2 separate regions of the Homo sapiens genome follow, and region 2 is linked to region 1. Evidence: fine-mapped expression QTL. A gene starts in region 1. The other region holds a variant in brackets. All regions are shown on one strand. Distances are between the middles of the regions.

What was found. PIP is the estimated chance that this variant, and not a neighbour inherited with it, causes the effect.
Region 2: its variant is the best candidate, but not a certain one, in a credible set for the expression of CLCA4-AS1 in visceral fat (GTEx, PIP 0.89).

Annotation. Positions count from the first base shown.
Region 1 is chr1:86,702,094-86,707,474 of GRCh38, reverse strand. It overlaps CLCA4-AS1 (CLCA4 antisense RNA 1), which reads left to right and starts at 2,982. Exons shown (of 5, transcript NR_135837.1): 1 at 2,982-3,868. SH3GLB1 (SH3 domain containing GRB2 like, endophilin B1) reads right to left here and starts at 2,899. Exons shown (of 9, transcript NM_016009.5): 1 at 2,504-2,899. The coding sequence starts at 2,575. RefSeq lists a silencer at 2,246-2,735 and enhancers at 2,560-3,061, 3,626-3,695.
Region 2 is chr1:86,668,861-86,674,241 of GRCh38, reverse strand. All of the region lies in intron 4 of CLCA4-AS1 (CLCA4 antisense RNA 1), which reads left to right. Among named protein-coding and RNA genes, the nearest start is that of CLCA4-AS1, 33 kb to the left of the region's middle. The variant C/T (reference allele first, on the strand shown) is at 2,690.

The DNA.
Region 1 (5,381 bases):
CATACCTCACAGCCAATCCAACAGCCAATACTGGATAATTTGGAACCTTCACTGCTACCACTGTAATCTAAGTTACAATCGCCTTTTACGTGTATTATGGCCACAGCTCCTTCATTGGTCTCCTTAATGCCCCTGAAACTTCAGTCTTTGTACTTCTTCCTGCTGCCTGAAATACTTTTATTCCAAAAAAAACTAGGTCTGTCACTTCCTTGAGGTCTCTTGAATTTCATCCTATTAGAAAGACTTGCCCTGACCATCCTATCTATACACGATACTAATGTTAGAAAATACTAATAAAGATATTAACAACCACCATCTCTGCGTTATTCTATTCTTCTGGCCATGATTTTTATCACCACCTGATGTATTTACAAGCTTATCTTCCGCTACAATGTAAGCTTCAGGAGGGCAGACACTTTGCTGATTTTATTCACTGCTGTATCACCAGTGTCCACAGTAGCCACAAGCAGACATCAGACATGCAGTAGACACTTAAATATTTAAAACTGAAAAGAAAATTATTTGATGGCTAACAGATTAGCATAAAATTTAAAACTTTTTCCTAAAGAATTTGAAACAAGGAATTAAAATTCTTTGGGAAGTACACATTTTGAGAGCTTTGCTAGATTTAATTTTTTAAATTGAGTCTATCCACAATTTAAATCAGACTAAATTCTAGTAAATGTGTCCTCTTTAAGGGGTGTGAGTTATACGTCTGAAACATATTTAACTGTATTTAAAAGAGTAGCATTATACAGTGTCAAATCCTCATAAGCATCTAGAATTATAGGTAATGAGCACTAGGACAAACAAAAATACCAAGGGCTCTAGTCCTCTATTGCAGTCAATGTTAAAAGTGTACAAGTGTCTCACACATCAAAATTCATTTCACACCCTCAATCACTCATTCTTCTTGCACCTTGTCTTTGAACTATTAGAAGCTAGTGAATTTAAATCAAAACATTATTTTAACTATAAAGGCTCAACGTCTACAATATATCATATTTTAGGGAAGGAAGGGAAGAAAAGGGTTAAGGCAGCTAGCTTATTACTCACCATGCAGATTTTAGAACTTAGAAATCAAAAGCTAGAAGGAATTTACCATCTCTAAAGTGTTACTTGCTTGTTGATATGGAAATGCTCAGATTGAACCAGATGATTTTTAAGGTCTCTCTAGGCCACAGCATTCTATTATTCTAGCTATCTTAAATCTGGAATGCTTATCCCGGAAGAAAAAGCAGCTGGGAGTACTAGGTCAGACAGCACCTGGTTATTTACTAGTTGTGCAAGTTTCTTAACCTCAGTAAGGCTGCTTCCTCACATATATAAAAGGGGTTAATAACATCTATCTGGCAAAGTTATGGAAAAGACTGGAGATAATATGTCAAATGCATTACAAAGTGCTTGACAGGTTTTTCATAATATAGGCAGCTATTACCTTGCTCTAGCTCTACTACTCTTTTGCCAGGGATAGTGCAATGTAGGATCAACTGTGCCAACAAAATTGGGGCAAAGGCAAGGAAAGTAGTAAAGCCACAGAACAGATTTACATTTCAGCACCAATTTGGTATGCATATTAGAAAATTATTTTTGTTTTCTTTTTACAAAAGAGAATGTTGTTGCTACCGTGACCGTAAACACCAGATTGTTTATAATTCATGTTGTGAAATTTACATCTGTTCACAGATTTACTGAGTTGGCATAACATGGGTGATGACTGTGGGAAACGGCCCAAGTTCCTTAGTACTGACACTTCCTTGATTGTAGAATATCGAGAGGTAGTCAACTTTTCCCCTTAAAGTATATTTAAAACATACTACTGTGACTACAGCCATAACAATATCCCCGCATCTCTCCTTGATCTACAGCTGGTGCTTCCCATTTTGAAAAAGAGTGAAAACCCCCCAACCCTAGGTTTCTTGTGGTCTTGGCAAAGTCTCAACGCCAACTGGCGATCTCCATTTCCCCCGCGGGCTGCCAAGCCCAGGACAGTCCTTTCAGGGAGAAAGAGGGCCGGAGGGAACTGTGTTGGCAGCTCTCTGGGTTGAAGGACAGGAAAAGGAAACTCCCTTCTTGGACTCCGAGGGGAGGGTGAGAGACGAAAGGAAAGGGTGGGGGGTAGTGCAAGAATGGCCTGTGTCTCGGTTACCGCAAAGGACTCGCAAGCCTCCGCCAGCCCCGGGGTGGAGGCCACAGGAGCACTGACGTCGTGGTATCAGAAAGGCGGACAGTGCAGCCTTAGTGTTCCCCAGGGGTGGGAGGAAGCTCCCGGCCCCGTCCCCACCCCGCCTCGCTTCCCAGGGAGCGGCGGTTGGGCAGGAGCGGGGCAGAAATCCGCCGCCGGGCCCGGGGAGGGGACCAGGCCGCGCCCATCTCCCAGGCCTCTGGCTGCAGCAGGCCCGCTGGGTGGTCGGCGAGGCCCGGGGGCGCCGCGTCGAGCTGCGGTCCCCTCCCTCAACCTTCCCGGGCGCCGCCACCCCTTTTCCCCCCAGCACCAGGGTACCTGCACGGCGCGACTGAGGAAGGTGCCTGCGTCGGCCGCCAGCTTCTTCACGTTGAAGTCCATGATATTCATCCTAGGCGGCAGCCGGGCGGAGCCGGCCGACCTAGCGGCGGCGAGGCGGAGGTGCCGCGGCCGGGCTGGGGCGCAGGGCTAGAGCGGCGAGGGCAGACGTGGTAGGTGGAGGGAGGCGGCGCCAGCCCCGCAGCCGCAGCTGTCGTTTCCGTGAACGGGGAGGATGAAGGCGGGGCGAGGGAGGAGAACAAGCGCGCGGCGGCAGCGCCAAGGATGGGTCAGTCGGCTCGGAGAACGGCCGCTAACGTCGACGATGGGCCCCGCGGGCGAGCCGGAGATGGACGGGCGACCCCGCCGTGTGGACCCGGGTCCCAAGGGAAAAACAAGCGCGGGCCGCGGGGCGGAGCCTTTCTCGAGGTTATCGCGGGAACAGCGACCCCTTGAGGATTGCGGCGGCGCAGCCCCGGGGCGCGCCGGGAGCTCCGCCCGGCTCCTGTGGAGGAAGCGGCGAGGGCGAGCCGCGGGGTCTCGGCGCCTCTGTATGCTTGCACTTAACGAGAACCCAGAGCGAACACGACCCACATTTCTCTTTTTGTTTTAAGAGGAAATATAGGAGTTACAGCATAGAATTACAATATCTGGACATTAGAAATAACAGGTCCCGGTCACGGTATGGCACCGCGCGACACACTTGGTCCCTGAGGCCTGGATGCCGCTCAGCAAACGTTCGCGGAATAGGGTTGGGTTTACTGTCCCCCACCGAGCCGGTTGCTCATTCATTCAGCATAATTGAATACCTCCTGTGTGCCAGGCACTGAATCAAGTGTCGGAGACAATGTCCTGCCCTCAAGCTCCTGGCCGGTTACTTGACAACCTTCCGGGACCTCAACGCTATGTGCCTACTGTGTGAAAGCAAAGTGCCAGGTGGAGGACACAAAGATGGCGAGCGACACAGGATAGTCCTTAACAATTAAGCGTGACTAATTTTAATAACAAATGAGAATATGATGTGACATCCGTTCCAAATCCTGTCGTTCCAAGTAACTTCTTAAGCATCTTTCACGATACAGCCTCTGCTTGAAAGGAATTAAAACAGGTACAAGCATGGAAGGAGACGTTGCTATCATATTTCAAGAATAAGAAAATGCTGTTTTGTGTGGTTGTGCAGCAGGCAATGAAATGAGCTTACATTCAAGCTTCCGTGTTTTACTGAAACAACAGTCACAGATGCAGTAGATGTTAAAGGTTGAAAGACGAGTGCAGTAAAAGCATTATGAGGACAAGAAGAAAACGTAAATATTTGTGTTGTTTCATTCTTTGTTGTGGTGGCAGAAACAGCCCCCTCTTTCTAAGGTAACTCCAATATAATGATCTCTCCCAGCTTTGAAATACTCCATGTCTGTTTCATTTTCCAGAAATATGGAAAAATGAATATATAATAAAAAACCCTATTTCTCATTTATTGTCTATTTTAGATCTTTATGTGGAAAAGCACTTACTCTCTTCCCAGAGCACTGTTTTTAAAGTAGGTATATTTGCCATAACCTATGCTCGTCTCTACAAAAGGATCACACCACCGTGTCCACCATTAAAGGGGAAATTCTTTAATGGTGGACACAGTGGTGTCCCTGAATCCTCATCCTCAAGTGTTTCAATCTTCCCAGTCTTGGGAAAACAACAATGTTACTTCTTTCTTTTGCACCCTCTGTAGCTGTAATCCTGTTTCCCCATTCTCCATAAAAGACTTACCTTATTTTCATATATCCTTATTCTTAGCCTTTGACACTTTTTTTTTTGAGACAGAGTTTTGCTGTGTCACCCAGGCTGGAGTGCAATGGTGTGATCTCAGCTCACTGCAACCTCTGCCTCCTGGGTTCAAGGATTCTCCTGCCTCAGCCTTCCAAGTAGCTGGGATTACAAGCATGCATCACCACGCCCGGCTAATTTTTTATATCTTTAGTAGAGACAGAGTTTCACCATGTGGGCCAGGCTGGTCTCGAACTCCTGGCCTCAAGTGATCCGCCTGCCACAGCCTCCCAAAGTGCTGGGATGACAGGTGTGAGCCACCGCACCCAGCTGATTCGCTTTCTTTACAGAGAAAATATAAATCATCACTCTGTTTGGCAGAAGCCTCTTCAACCAAATTTCCTTATTTCCACCTCCTGTTCTCTCCACACTCTTTCCTGCATCATTGCCAAATGTTTCAAAGGAATAGGTGTCTCAGGTGTTCTGAGTAGAGCCACTGCTCCCTTAATCTTGGCTGCACATCAGCATCACCTGGAGAGTTTAAGCAACCACTGATGCCTGGATCCAGTCCCAGAGTGTGGACTGGGCATTGGGATGTTTTAGGAGTTCCTCTAGGTGTTCTTAATGTGTGACCAAGGTTGAGAACTAATTTGTCACCCTCTAGAACTTGCTCCATCAGTCTCTACCCTTTGCCTACAGACTGATTCTACTTCTCTTACCAGATATCAGTCCCTTAAGGGCAGTGTCCGTTTCCTATTTATTTTTATATATTTTATGGTTTACACAGGCAACATAGTGAATTCCCAAATGATTTAGTAAGTGAAAAAAGTAATCAAATCAAGATGTTTACAGTGCTAAGCTCTTTTGTGACACCATCACCCCCAGCCTAAATTTCCAACTATTTATCCATAGATTCAATATTTCCAGTGGCAAGTCTGTTATAGTTTGCTTTTCCTGAAAATTCTTCTTTTCTTGGGTTTCCTACATTGATAAATTGAATCATACACACCAAATCACCTAAGCCAGAAATCTGAGTCCCCTTTGATTATTTCCTCTTATTTCCCACCACCAATTGGTCTATCCTGGCAATTTCTTCTCTGAAACTGTTTCCTATTTTTCA
Region 2 (5,381 bases), 33 kb after region 1:
TATATATTTATGGGGCACATGGGATATTGTGACACAGGCTTCAATGTGTAATAATCACGTCAAGGTAAATGGGGTATTCATCACCTCAAGCATTTTTCCTTTGTGTTAAAAACAATCCAATTATACTGTTTTAGTTATTTTTAAATGTACAATAAGGTATTGTTGACCATAGTCACCCTGTTGTGATACCAAATACCAGTTCTTATTCATTTATTATTATTATTATTATACTTTAAGTTTTAGGGTAGATATGCACAATGTGCCGGTTAGTTACATATGTATACATGTGCCATGCTGGTGTGCTGCACCCATTAACTTGTCATTTAACATTAGGTATATCTCCTAATGCTATCCCTCTCCCCTCCCCCCACCCCACAACAGTCCCCAGAGTGTGATGTTCCCCTTCCTGTGTCCATGTGTTCTCATTGTTCAATTCCCACCTATGAGTGAGAACATGCGGTGTTTGGTTTTTTGTCCTTGCGACAGTTTACTGAGAATGATGATTTCCAATTTCATCCATGTCCCTACAAAGGACATGAACTCATCATTTTTTATGGCTGCATAGTATTCCATGGTGTATATGTGCCACATTTTCTTAATTCAGTCTATCATTGTTGGACATTTGGGTTGGTTCCTAGTCTTTGCTATCTTGAATAGTGCTGCAATAAACATACGTGTGCATGTGTCTTTATAGCAGCATGATTTATAGTCCTTTGGGTATATACCCAGTAATGGGATGGCTGGGTCAAATGGTATTTCTAGTTCTAGATCCCTGAGGAATCACCACACTGACTCCCACAATGGTTGAACTAGTTTACAGTCCCACCAACAGTGTAAAAGTGTTCCTATTTCTCCACATCCTCTCCAGCACCTGTTGTTTCCTGACTTTTTAATGATTGCCATTCTAACTGGTGTGAGATGGTATCTCATTGTGGTTTTGATTTGCATTTCTCTGATGGCCAGTGATGATGAGCATTTTTTCATGTGTCTGTTGGCTGCATAAATGTCTTCTTTTGAGAAGTGTCTGTTCATATCCTTTGCCCACTTTTTGATGGGGTTTTTTTTTTCTTGTAAATTTGTTTGAGTTCATTGTAGATTCTGGATATTAGCCCTTTGTCAGATGTGTAGATTGCAAACATTTTCTCCCATTTTGTAGGTTGCCTGTTCACTCTGATGGTAGTTTCTTTTGCTGTGCCAGAAGCTCTTGAGTTTAATTAGATCCCATTTGTCAATTTTGGCTTTTGTTGCCATTGCTTTTGGTGTTTTAGACATGAAGTCCTTGCCCATGCCTATGTCCTGAATGGTAATGCCTAGGTTTTCTTCTAGGGTTTTTGTGGTTTTAGGTCTAACGTTCTTTAATCCATCTTGAATTGATTTTTGTATAAGGTGTAAGGAAGGGATCCAGTTTCAGCTTTCTACATATGGCTAGCCAGTTTTCCCAGCACCATTTATTAAATAGGGAATCCTTTCCCCATTTCTTGTTTTTCTCAGGTTTGTCAAAGATCAGATAGTTGTAGATATGTGGCGTTATTTCTGAGGGCTCTGTTCTGTTCCATTGATCTATATCTCTGTTTTGGTACCAGTACCATGCTGTTTTGGTTACTGTAGCCTTGTAGTATAGTTTGAAGTCAGGTAGCATGATGCCTCCAGCTTTGTTCTTTTGGCTTATGATTGACTTGGTGATGCGGGCTCTTTTTTGGTTCCATATGAACTTTAAAGTAGTTTTTTCCAATTCTGTGAAGAAAGTCATTGGTAGCTTGATGGGGATGGCATTGAATCTATAGATTACCTTGGGCAGTATGGCCATTTTCACGATATTGATTCTTCCTACCCATGAGCATGTAATGTTCTTCCATTTGTTTGTATCCTCTTTTATTTCATTGAGCAGTGGTTTATAGTTCTCCTTGAAGAGGTCCTTCACATCCCTTGTAAGATGGATTCCTAGGTATTTTATTCTCTTTGAAGCAATTGTGAATGGGAGTTCACTCATGATTTGGCTCTCTGTTTGTCTGTTATTGGTGTATAAGAATGCTTGTGATTTTTGCACATTGATTTTGTATCCTGAGACTTTGCTGAACGTGCTTATCAGCTTAAGGAGATTTTGGGCTGAGACAATGGGGTTTTCTATATTTTTGTACACATTCACCATCCCCACTCCCCAACCCTGCAAAGTACCCTTCCCAGATACTGGTAACCATCATTCTACTCTATATCTCTATGAGTTCAATTGTTTTAAAAATTTTTTAGCTCCCACAAATAAGTGAGAACATGCAAAATTTGTCTTTCTGTGCTATTTCACATAACATAATGACCTCCAGTTTCATCTAAGTTGTTGCAAATGACAGGATCTCCTTCTTGTTTTGGCTGAATAGTGCTCTATTATGTATAGTTACCATATTTTCTCTATCCATTCATTTGTTAATGGACACTTAGATTGCTTCCAAATATTGGTTATTGTGAATAGTGCTGCAGTAAAATTGGAAGTGCAGATATCTCTTCAATGTACTGATTCCTTTCTTTTGGGTTTATACCTAGCAGTGGGATTCTGGATCATACGGTAGTTCTATTTTTAGTTTTTTGAGGAATATCCAAACTTTTTCCCATAGCGGTTGTACTAATTTACATTCCCACCAACAGTGTACGGAAGTTCTCTTTTCTCCACATCATTGTCAGTATTTGTTATTGCCTA[C/T]GTTTTGGGTAAAAGCCACTTTAGCTGGGGTAAGATGCTATCTCATTGTAGTTTTGACTTGCATTTTTCTGATGATCAGTGATGTTGAGTACCTTTTCATATACCTGCTTGCCATTTGTATGTCTTCTTTTGAGAAATGTCTATTGAGATCTTTTGCACAGTTTTTAGGTTGGATTATTATATTTTTTCCTGTTGAGTTGTTTGGGCTCCTTATGCATTCTGGTTATTAATTTCTTGTTAGATGGATAATTTGCAAATATTTTTTCCTATTCAGTGGGTTGTCCTTCACTTTGTTGATTGTTTCCTTTGCTGTGCAGAAGCTTTTTAACTTGGTTTGATACCATTTGTCCATGTTTGCTTTGGTTGCCTGAGCTTGTGGGGTATTACTCAAGAAATCTTTGCTCAGTCTAATGTCCTGGAGAATTTGCACAATGTTTTCTTTCAGTAGTTTCATAGTTTGGGGTATTAGATATAAGTCTTTAATACATTTTTATTTGGTTTCGTCTATGGTAAGAGTTAGGGGTCTAGTTTCATTGTATAGATATCCAGTTTTCCCAGCACCATTTATTGAAGACTGCCCTTTCCTAAATGTATGTTCTTGGTATTTTTGTCAAAAAATAGTTCACTGTAGATGTATGGATTTATTTGTGGATTCACTGTTCCATTTTGTTGGTCTACATGTCTGTTGTTATGCCAGTACCATGTTATTTTGGGTACTGTAGCTCTGTAGTACATTTGAAGTCAGGTAATGTGATTCTTCCAATTTTGTACTTTTTGCTCAGGATTACCGTGAGTATTCTGGGTCTTTTGTGGTTTCATATAAATTTTAGGATTTTTTTTCTATTTCTGTGAAGAATGTTGTTGATATTTTGATAGTGATTGCACTGAATCTGTAGATTGCTTTTGGTAGTATGGACAGTTTAAGAATATTGATTCTTCCAATTCTTGAACATGGAATATCTTTCCATTTTTTTTGTATTACCTTCAACTTCCTACATCAATGTTTTACAGTTTTCATTGTAGAAATATTTCACTTCTTTGGTTAAGTTTATTCCTAGGTATTTTATTTTATTTGTAGCTATTGTAAATGGAGTTACTTTCATGATTTATTTGTCAGATTGTTAGCTGTTGGCAGATAGAAATGCTACTAATTTTTGTATGTTGATTTTTGTATCCTGCAACTTCACTGAATTTGTTTGTCAGTTCTAATAGTTTTCTTGGTGAAGTCTTTAGGTTTTTCCAAGTATAAGATCATATCATCTGCAAACAAGGATAATTTGACTTCTTCCTTTCCAATTTGCATGCTCTTTATTTCTTTCTCTCATCTGATTGCTCTAGCTAGGACTTCTAGTACTATGTTGAATAATAGTGATGAAAATGGGCATCCTTATCTTGTTTCAGCTCTTGGAGGAAAGGCTTTCACTTTTTCATTGTTCAGTATGATACTAGCTGTAGTCTGTCGTATATGGCTTTTATTGTGTTGAGGTATGTCATTTATACCTAGTTTTTGAAGTTTTTTTTTTTAACATGAAGGGATGTTGAATTTTATCAAGTGTTTTTTTCAGTATCAATTGAAATGATCATATGGTTTTTATCCTTCATTCTGTTGATATGATATATCCCACTGATTGATTTGCATATGTTGAATCATCTTTGCATCCCTGGGATGTATCCCACTTTGTCATGATTAATGATCTTATTAATGTGTTGTTGAATTTGGTTTGCTAGTGTTTTATTGAGGATAATATTTGCATCAATGTTCATCAGGGATATTGGCCTGTAGTTTTTTTTGGTGTGTCTTTGTCTGGTTTTGGTATCAGGGTAATACTGGCCTCACAGAATGAGTTTAGAAGTATTCCCTCCTCTTCTACTTTTTGGAGTAGTTTGAGTAGGATTGGTATTAGTTCTTTAAATGTTAGGTAGAATTCAGCAGTGAAGCTAACAAGCCCTGAGCTTTTCTATCCTGGGAGACTTTATTATGGCTTCAATCTCATTACTTGTTATTGGTCTATTCTGGTTTGGGATTTCTTCAGGATCAATCTTAGCAGGTTGTATATGTCTAAGAGTGTATCTATTTCTTCTGGGTTTTCCAATGTATTGTCATATATATTAGCTCAGAGTATTCACTAATTATCCTTTGAATTTATGTGGTATCAAGTGTAATAGTGTAATGTCTCCTTTTTTATCTGTGATTTTACTTATCTAGCTCTTCTTTCTTTTTTTCTTAGTCAGGCTAAAGATTTGTCACTTTATCTGTTCGTAAGAAAAACTTTGCTTTGATCTTTTGTATTTTTTATTTCAATTTCATTTATTTCTTCTCTGATATTATTTCTTTTCTTCTACTAATTTTGGGTTTGATTTACTCTTTTCTTTCTAATTCTTTAATCTACATCATTAGGTTGCTAATTTGCAGTTTTTCTGCTTTTCCGATGTAGGTGCTTATTGCTATAAACTTTCTTCTTAGTACTGCTTTTGCTATATCCCATAGGATTTTGTATGTTATATTTCCATTTTCCTTTGTTTCAACAAATTTTTAAATTTTCTTCTTAATGTCTTTATTGACCCAGTGGACATTCAGGAACATATTATCTAATTTCCAGGTATTTGTATAGTTTCCAAAGTCCCTTCTGTTATTGATTTCTGGTGTTTTTCCATTGTGGTCAGAAAAGATATTTGATATGATTTCATTTCT